Homo sapiens: one gene and its partner. The protein of the gene in region 2 purifies or fractionates together with the protein of the main gene of each other region. This does not show direct contact. Each region holds a gene or a part of one and is shown on either strand. Other genes may lie near its edges.

Evidence for each region.
Region 1: the proteins of MBTPS2 (region 2) and SARAF purify together in Homo sapiens (affinity purification with mass spectrometry; 2 studies listed by BioGRID and IntAct, with this or other methods). This does not show direct contact.

Annotation. Positions count from the first base shown.
Region 1 is NC_000008.11:30,062,503-30,066,068, forward strand, and holds the end of SARAF (store-operated calcium entry-associated regulatory factor isoform 1 precursor), read right to left. Parts: coding exon 3,486-3,566; intron 1,412-3,485; coding exon 1,386-1,411; 3' UTR 501-1,385; downstream 1-500. UniProt on the Homo sapiens protein: Negative regulator of store-operated Ca(2+) entry (SOCE) involved in protecting cells from Ca(2+) overfilling.
Region 2 is NC_000023.11:21,842,617-21,849,616, reverse strand, and holds part of MBTPS2 (membrane-bound transcription factor site-2 protease), read right to left. Parts: intron 6,448-7,000; coding exon 6,299-6,447; intron 4,447-6,298; coding exon 4,233-4,446; intron 1-4,232. UniProt on the Homo sapiens protein: Zinc metalloprotease that mediates intramembrane proteolysis of proteins such as ATF6, ATF6B, SREBF1/SREBP1 and SREBF2/SREBP2.

The DNA.
Region 1 (3,566 bases), on a different chromosome or scaffold from region 2:
TGGTGACAGAACGAGAGACTCTGTCTCAAAAAAAAAAAAAAAGCAACAAACTACATTCTCTTTTATTCCATATCCTTCTACTAAGGAGAAATGGGGTAAGGATTTAGTGGGATATACATAAAGTAAAGCTGTGTTTCTTCTATCAGTTAAAATTTCTACTGTTTTACTGATGAAAAGAGGATAGTTTTATTATGCAATAGTCTTAATAAGGGTTTGTTTTAAATTGGTTCTTATTGGTTGGTGAAAAGTAACTGCAGTTTTAAATGGCAAAAATCATTAAACACATAAGATATAAAACTGGGGCTTTGAGGTTATGAAGCTTAACTAAGTGTAACCATGCAATCTCTGATGGGTTGGGAGGCTTGGAGATTTAATTATTTTTTTCAAACGCTATTTTTTGGCAGAGGCTTCCACACCATTTGTAAATTACTTTTTGAAAACATTTACCAAAAGACTAAGGTACGACTACCACATAAAATTACTGTTTAGGGAGACAGAACTTCTGCATGAACTTTCCCCTTTGGGAAAAAGGGTTTAAAAAAACAAAAAGTAACATTTATTTGCGCCTAGGCTAATAGAAAGAATGAGACTAAACCCCTTGTTTGTTTTTATTGATTCTTTTTAAGATTGAAACAGACTATTACAACAATATTTGAGATTTCACAGAGAACTGCATGCTTTTGTTATTAAAAGACTTTTGTTGAAAAATTTGACCTTTACCTCTTATGAACGAAAGAAATATAGAGGTTTCAAGCATTTTTGCCAGCACAGAGTCATTCACAACAACCTTCTAGATGCTTATTTTCTACCTTTTCCTACAGAAGGTAATATTCAGTTACCAGAAGGCCATCTCCACCACTGAATGATTCAAAGCTTCAGAGCTCAAAAGTGATCAGAACTCACAAATTAGCATAATTAGTCCAAAGCTTGATTTAAATGTTTGAAGAACAGCAAACATCAAATAATATAATACCAAATAGAATATTATAGTCTCTATGAGGTAATAACTCATCAGCTACAACCACCTAAAACTGAAATTTTCTGTACTTAGTTTCTATTAGTACAACACCTTCATTCTTAATGCTTCTTAGGGCATCACAGGTTTTAGAAATTAATGTATTTTTAGCATTCCACAGTAATGATCACTTTCAAAAACTGCAATATACATCTGCATGTTACACTGACATACAACACATAAGTATTTTGTCACACATCAACTTTTAGCCTCAAATAATAGAATACAAAAAGCTACACTGGACATAACACCACAGAACTTTTGAATATCCCCTTTTCCCAATTGTTAACAGGTAGTACTTTTTTTCTAAAGAGAAAGTGATGAAAAATCCAAAATTTCTGCATCCAGTGTTTGACTCCAACTTTCTACTTTATCGTCTCCTGGTACCACCATATCCTAGAATGAGAGGGGTAAAATTTACATTAGTTTTTAAAAATGCATTAGAATTGCTTATAAAATTACAAGTCATACATGTTTATTGTCAGCAAATGAATGAGATAGGAGGAAAGGAAAGAGTGTGCCACTAGGTGGAACTGGGCTAAGCAGGACAGTGCATCGCCTCCCACAGCAACCTTCCCAATCATCAAGCCTACTACACTCACACATGGTTGCTGGGAATGACAGTTAGGACCCCAAAAAAGAGAATGCATTCTATAGTGGGGCCACCATGGTACAGGCAATACTCAAAGTCTAAGCCAAAAAGACAGAGGCCAGTGGCGCATAAGCCATGCCCTGCTACCTCTCACAACTCCAGTGGTAAGAGACGTAATGTGGGGAGGGTTACGGACTTTAGATGCTTAAACGTTACTTAAGACACTGTGCGCACACACACAGGCTACAGGATGACAAATCTTCCTATCTAGAAAGTCTCTCAATTATTTTCAGGTTTACATTATTTGGTTTTTATGATTTTCTTTCATATAATTCCCATACATTTCTAGTTCATAGTCATGATTTTATGCAAGTCTTCTTTCCACTGAGAATGAATATTTTTCTGTCATGATGTCTTACCTAGCCATATATATATATATATATATATATATATTTTTTTTTTTTTTTTTTGAGACAGAGTTTTGCTCTTGTTGCCCAGGCTGGAGTGCAATGGTGCAATCTCGGCTCACTGCAACTTCTGCCTCCCGCGTTCAAGCGATTCTCCTGCCTCACCCTCCCAAATAGCTGGGATTACAGGCATGTGCCACTACACCCAGCTAATTTTTGTATTTTTAGCAGACATGGGGTTTCACCATGTTGGGCAGGCTAGTCTCGAACTCCTGACCTCAGGTGATCCACCCATCTCAGCTTCCCAAAGTGCTGGTATTACAGGTGTGAGCCACCGTGCCTGGCCTTACCTAGTCATATTTTTATATATTCTCCCAACTCCTTTTTTTCTTCCCAGAAGTACCTACTATCTCATACTCTAACACCATAAATTAGTTTTGCCTGTTTTTGCATGTGTATTTTATAAAATGTAACTGCTATCATCATAGTGTATATATTATTTTGTGTCTGGCTTCTTTATATTTGGTAGATCTATCCATGTTATTGCACACAACTACTTATTCTTAGTTGCACAGTAACCCACTGCAATACAGCAAACATAACTCAATTTATTCATCCATTTTACTGCTGATGGATACGTGGGCTGTTTCCAGTTTTGGGCAATTATGAATAGGGATGCTATGAACAGTCTTGTGCTTATCTGCCAGCACACAAGTGTATGCATTTCTGTGGCGATATATCTGAGAGCAAAACTGCTCTGTCCTTTGGAAGTATGCATAGGTTCAATTTTAGGAGGTAGTACCAGTTTTTTTAATTGAATGTATCAATATATATCCAAACCAGCATTATGAGAATTCTACTCACATTTTAAAACATATTTAAATATATTTTTCTATCAATTTCAAGAATTAATCATTGTTCTATAACTTCCTTTTCCTGAAAGACAAAGCTACTCCAGAGCAATCTCTCATGGCCTCCTTACCCAGCAGCTCCCAATTAGGCTTGATGCTTAATCCAGTTATTCCTTTGTTTTTTTTGTATCTTTGCTTTTTACAAAATATCCTCTGAGCATTCCAATAAACATTACAATCATATTTTTGAAAATTAAAGTATACCTCAATATCTTTTTTGAATGTTATTGAATTTTAAGTTTAAGCTTCTACTTAGAAAAGTCTAGTTTAGAACTTAAAGGATCTCTAGAGATCACAGAATTAAATATATGGGGAAGCTAGCACCCAGTAAGGTTCAAGTTAAAACCTTGGTCTATGGTAGAGCTAAGCCTAAATCAAATCCCTGTTTGATTTTTAAAGAATGTTTAAAAGTGGGATCTCAGTTAACTGTGCTATTAATATTTTTGGTAGGTACACCAAATAAAACCATGGTTGCTAAACAGATAATCATCTTCTAAAGTTCCCAAACTATTTCTGTACTTTACTCCTAGGTAAAAGGAACTTGTATTTTTTGCTCTTACCTGATGCAGTTCTGGTTTTCGTGTCTGAGTTTGAACATACCGAATAGCTGCCCGAGCCTCCATGAAGGGGTGAGTAAGCCC
Region 2 (7,000 bases):
TAAATGAGCTAATCTTTGTCCAATGTTTAATGTTATGCCTCACAGAGAGGGTAGTAAATGCTATTATTACACAAAATTTAAAAGATTTTGATACATGTCATCAAATTATACTCTAAAAGCAGACCCTTTCATAACCTTGGGCAAGCTCGTTTTATTCAAATCTGCAATGTGATTTACATTTCTTTGACCATTTGTAAAGCTGAACTTTCCCCGTACTTTTGACCATTTTTTGGTCCTTCTGCGAGTTGCCTACTGATAACCTGACTTGTTTTCTCCTAAAGTATTCAACTTTTTCTTACTGATCCGTAAGATCACTTCAAATATCAGCATTGGTCCTTTGTAATACATGACATAAATGTATTCCACAGTTTGTTTGCCTTTTAATTTTACTTTGTTTTTAGTTTTTGATATATAAAATTTAGGTAGTCAAATCTATTAGTATTCATGGTTTCCTACAACACCAAGAGTGAACCCTAATGTAAACTATGGGTGGTAATGACATATTCACGTCGGTTCATCATTGTAAGGGGGGAAATCTCCGTACCTTCTTAATTTTGCTGTGAATCTAAAACTGCTCTAATAAAGTATTTAAAAAATAAAAAATAAAGGTGTTACTGTTACATAAAAAATATTCATGGTTTCTACTATTCGCTCTATGTCTTCCTCATTCTGTGCTCATAAAAATGATAACATGGGTCTTTTCTTTCAAGGCCTTTTATGGTTTCAAGTTTTAATTTTAATTCAACTGGAATTTATTTTTATGGACACAGAAATCTCATCTAAAAAGCTTCCTTTAGTAACTGAAGATTCAAACAATGCTGCTTGAATCATTTTCTAAATTCCATTAATTCCAAGTGTCCTTTCTCTAGTTAAGAAACTAGTTATAATCATTTTTGTTGTTGTTGTTGTTTTATTTTATTTTATTTATATATTTTTTTGAGACGAGTCTCGCTGTGTCGCCCAGGCTGGAGTGCAGTCGCGCGATCTCGGCTCACTGCAAGCTCCGCCTCCCGGGTTCATCTCATTCTCCTGCTTCAGCCTCCACAGTAGCTGGGACTACATGCGTCCGCCACCACGCCCGGCTAATTTTTATTTATTTATTTATTTTGTATTTTTAGTAAAGACAGGGTTTCACCATGTTAGCCAGGATGGTCTCGATCTCCTGACCTCGTGATCCACCCACCCTGGCCTCCCAAAGTGCTGGGATTTCACTCTTGTTGCCCAGGCTGGAGTGCAATGGTGTGATCTTGGCTCACTACAACCTCCGCCTCCCAGGTTCAGGCAGTTCTCCTGCTTCAGCCTCCCAAATAGCTGGGACTACAGGCACACGCCACTACACCCGGCTAATTTTGTATTTTTAGTAGGGACGGGGTTTCACCATGTTGCCCAGGCTGGTCTCGAACTCCTGACCTCAGGTGATCCACCCACCTCGGCCTCCCAAAGTGCTGGGACTACAGGCGTGAGCCACTGAGCCCGGCCGAAACTAGTTATAATCATTTTTAATGTGTGCATAATATCTAATTGAATGACAATCCAATAATTTAACCATTCCTCAATTAGATATTTTGGTTGCTTTTAATTCTTCATAATAATAAATAATGTTAGGCTAAAGAGCTTAATGAATACTATTTTTTCTATATTTGAAAGTGTTTCCTTAAGCTAGAGTCCCAGATGTGGAGGTAAAGAGTCAAAGGAAATGGATATGTTTATAATGTTCATTATCTGAAATTCTCTTTACTTGGACCCTATTGAGCAACTTTTCTCAAGAACTTCTATGTCCCTTTTTATATACCTGCTCCATTCCTAAGTTGTCAGACATCTTTCCAGTATTATACTTTTCTCTGACCCCTCTCTAAATTTACATACTTAAGACTGTCATACATACCCTCTATATCACAAAATATCCTGCTTACCTTACCTTTATTTCAAATAAATCAGTAAGCTTGGTCCAATAGGATATTTCTTCCTTCTCTTTATTATTTTCTGCATGTACTAGTGAGTGAGATAAAGTAAGAATTTGAATGTGTGATAATACCAACAGATGGTAGGTCTTATTTGCTGGCAACAGTACACGATTGCCCATCTGTCTCTGCCATGATTCACACAGGGTATCAGATGTACCAGAATACTGAATACAGAATACTTTCAACAACACAGAGTGCCATGGTTTGGAGAATTAATACTGAACAAGGCTGTCAGGAATTATAGAGTAAACAGAAAGTATGTTACTTAAGCTACAAGAGCTCATGTCAAAGTCAGGATTCATAACATTCTTAAACTTATACATGAATATGCATGGTGGGCTCCAGAGGGCAGCTGACTTCTTAATGGTTCCAAAGCACGGATCTCCTAATAGAGCTGACATTTTTGTGAGTACTATGAATAAACTGAGTGGCAAAGAGAAGAAATAATTTCTTCTCTAAACAACGTTTTGCCATTCTAATTCTAGCAGGCAGATAAGCCAGTGATCATATTTTCTCCAACTGGCTTCTTTCTCTCTTACCCTCTTTCTTGTTGAACAAGAACCAATTGTGTAACCTGAGAGTCATCCTAAACTTTTCCTTCTCCCTCCAGCCTCACATTTAATTAATCACCAATGTCTGAGAATTCCACTCCAAAAGCTTACTTGAATCCATCCCCTTCATTCTCCTTGCCACTAATTTTATATCTTTATCACTTCTAAAATAAATTACTGCTCTTAAATGATCTCCACATCTTCACTCTAATGACTTTGGTCCATTTTGTACAGACTTGCTACCTACAGGTAAAACATAAACTTCATAACCTAGACCCTACCTGTATCTCCCACCTTATATCCTGCACTATCCTGTTCTCTTGCCTCCAGTCCCACCTATCCTCCCACCATATACCTAGAGGTTTAAAACTGTAAGTAAAATTACTTATAGTTCCTTGAAGAATTATTTGTCTCTCTTAAAAGTAGAGCATAGGCCGAGCGCAGTGGCTCATGCCTATAATCCCAGCCCTTTGGGAGGCCAAGGCGGGTGGATCATCTGAGGTCGGAAGTTCAAGACCAGCCTGATCAACATGGAGAAACCCCGTCTCTACTAAAAGTACAAAATTAGCCAGGCGTGGTGGTGCATGCCTGTAATCCCAGCTACTCAGGAGGCTGAGGCAGGAGAATCGCTCGAACCCGCGAGGCGGAGGTTGTGGTGAGCTGAGATCGCGCCATTGCACTCCAGCCTGGGCAGCAAGAGCAAAACTCCGTCTCAAATAATAATAATAATGATAATAAAATAATAATAGAGCATAATGTCTATAGGCTGTAAGATCAGTGATGATGGATCTACTAGTTATGAGCTGTGACCACAGGCAAGTGACTTAACGTGTCTGTGCCTTGATTTTCTCATCTGTAAGGCAGGGAATGTTTGCTGAAGAAAGAAATAATTTCTTCTGAGGCCTCACCTGCTAAATCTTTTTAATCTCTAAAAAAGAGCTATGGCCATAGGAGAGATTATTGTTCTCTACAAATGACTTCTAAATCTTCCCAGTGACCCAGCCTAGTAGAGGACACAAAGAGACAAGAAAAAAAAACCCAATCTGTTACTAATCCTTAGTCTACTCCATTAATAAGAACATGATTAAAAACAACATCCATGACTCATGGAAATGGGAACTATAAATGTAAAAATGTGAAATAAAAGTGAGCCAATGTAAAGCCCCCTTCCAAACTTTGGAGACATAAAATGATAAGGTATAGGTCTACACATGAGTTTTAAAGGAGTACAACTCAGCACATTATTCTTCACATTAAGAAATCACAGTGACCATTCAGAAAGGTCTTATATCTTTAATTAAAAGGATATTATTGGTTAGGCTCTGAAGGCCATGAAAAGGAAAGGGAAACACTTTGCATATAATTAGAATGCAATTTACTTATACATTATAGAGATCTTAAATCAGCATGCCTATTCTTTGAAAATAACAATCATTTAATATCTTAAAAAGACAGTCACGTATCTGTTTAATTGCTGACAGTCTTAATGATGGTTCATTTGTTCTCTTTTACCATTAATATTACAACTACTACCAAATATTTCAACAATTCCTTGCTGTATTCTTATTAATTTTTTTGTGTAAGCAGGTAATTTGAAAATTATGAGACTTTTAATTTATTTTCATATTTATATTATGGATAGGAGTTACACTAGATCATAAGTGGTATCTTGCATCTCTATTTCGATAGTTATTTAAAGCGAAAAGACGATACTTACCACAACTTGTAACACCTGTTCATTGTGAAGCGAGGAAGAGGAAGAAGATGAAGAAGAGGAAGAGGAAGAAGAGGAGGAAGAGGAAGAAGAGGAGGAAGAATAAGAAGAGGGAGAGTCAGCCATCATTTGTGCCAAAGTCTGCATCAGCGTTTTTCCAAGGAGAAAAAATGAGCTAAACATGGCAATTACGCCAAACACCATTCCAAAATTGAACCTGTCAAAAGGGAAAAAAATCATGTTAATTTACAATTTCTCTCAATTCATGGACTAGCAAATTCACTAAGCAGCCACATTTCATAGCTTTAAAATAATGGCTAAAAAATTTCAGTAACTCTGCTTCTTTTTCCTACATGAACTTCAAATATTTGACTGCAGCATGAGCACTAGTTTAAGCAGTTTTATAATTTATAATTCTCTGATAACTAAAGAATCTGAATATCATTCCCAATAAAAAAGTTTGTTTCCTCTCATGCACTTGCTCATTTACATAATATTGTTTTGATCTTGTCCTTATATCGTTATGAAAGCCCTTTTGACGTTATAGACATCCATCCTTTTTCATCTACCTCTTCTATTGTCTGCATCGTATTTCAGCTTTACTTTGTGATAAAATGAGCTTAAATATTAACATGGTATAATTTAATAATAATTTCTTTTTTCTATTGTTTTAATTATTAAAAGCTACCATTGTATAGTGGAGATAATCTGCCATGTTTTCTAACTTTGGTAAGTTGTGCTTTTCAAGGAACTTGTTTATTTCACTAAAACTGTCAAATTTATAGGCATAGAATTTTCTTAATAGTCTTACTATGTTTTTAATGCCTATAGAATCTGTAGTAATGTCCTCTTTTCAATTCCAATTTTTGTTTTTGAGACAGGGTCCCACTGTGTCACCCAAGTTGGAGTGCAGTGGCACGGTCACAGCTCACTGCAGCCTTCACCTCCCAGAGCTCAGGTGATCCTCCCAACTCAGCCTCCCAAGTAGCTGGGACCACAGACCCATACCACCACGCCTGGCTAAGTTTTATATTTTTTGTAGAGATGGGGTTTCGCCATGTTACCCAGGCTGGTTTCGAACTCCTGGGCTGAAGCAATCCGCCCATCTCGGCCTCCTAAAGTGCTGGGATTACAGGCATGGGCCACTGTGCCTGGCCTCAATTCTCATTTTTAATTACTTACGTTTCTTTTTTCTTCATCAGTCATGGTAGGGGTTTATCAATTAATATTTTCTATTTATTTATTTATTTATTTATTTATTTATTTATTTATTTATTTGAGATAGGGTCTTGCTGTGTCACACAGGCTGCAGTGCAGTGGTGTGATCTTGGCTCTCTGCAACCTCTGCCTCCCAAGTTCAAGGATTCTTGTGCCTTAGCCTCCCGAGTAGCTGGGACCACGTGCGCCACCATGCCCGGCTAATTTTTGTATTTTTAGTAGAGACAGGGTTTCACCATGTTGGCCAGGCTGGTCTCGAACTCCTGGCCTCAAGCAATCCACCTGCCTCAGCCTCCCAAAGTGCTGGGATTACAGGTGTGAACCACTGCGCCCGGCCCAATTAATATTTTCAAAGAACCAACTTTTGGCTTTGCTGATTTTCTCTATTGTATATTTTCTATTTCACTGATTTCTGTTCTTATCTTTATTATATCCTTCTTTCCACTTTGTATGCTTTGATCTGCTATTGCATTTTCTGCTAACTCTGATGATCTGATTGTTTACATTTAGCTCTAATCCATTTGGGGCTAAATTTTTAACAAAAAGAAATCTAGACCATGCCACCCCTGACCCTCACATTCTCTCATCTACAGAACCTGCCTGTATCTTGGGTGTCCCAGAGATCATTGTAAAGCCCCTAACTATAAATTGCCATAAATGCCTTGATTTTTAATGTATGCAAGCCACAATGATACAATCCCATAAGGTTATATAAAACCAGAAAGTTTTAATATTGTCAATATTTTAAAACTCAGAAAACTGCAAAGTAATGGAAATAGTTAATTTAACAAGCTGTCTGTCGTGATCACTTAATGATTAACCTAAACCAAACAAAAGAAGATGAAGAATACCATTGGTAAAGCATCCTTGCTTTCCGCCGTCCCCAACTGTAAAAGGCACGATTGAAAACAGCAGTTTGCCATCTTATGTGGAAAGGGGAGATGCTCAGTCCGTTGTTTTCCAGCCAGTCTTCATAAGAATGTTTAAAATAGACAGATGACTAAGAGAGAAAGAAAAGTTCTACATCACTCAATTTTGAAGAACAATTTATAATGTGTAAGAAAATAACACAAAGTATTTTCTAGAGGAAATTAAGATGCTGACTTCCCAAATGTTTATAATCTTAAAGCTTTATGTTTATTCTTCAGAATATTAAAGGTCACAGACCTAACCGGTCTACTGAGATTAGGGTCTGGTAAACTATGGGCCACAGGCCAAATCCGAACTACAGACTGTTTTCACACAACTTGTGAGCTAAGAATAGTTTTCACATTTTTAAGGGATTATAAAAAGACAATAAAAACCAAAAATATGCGACAGAGACCCTCTGTGGCCCAAAAAGCCTAAAATACTTACTACCAAGCACTTTACAAAAAGTTCGCTGACCCCTGCTTAGAACAGTGTTGTCCAATAGAAATATAATGTGAGCCACAAATGTAAGCCACATATATAACTTTAAATTTTCTAACAGCCAAATTTTAAATATTAATTTTCGTATACTTATGCCCCAAAATATCCAAGATATTTCAACATGTAATCAACATACACTATTG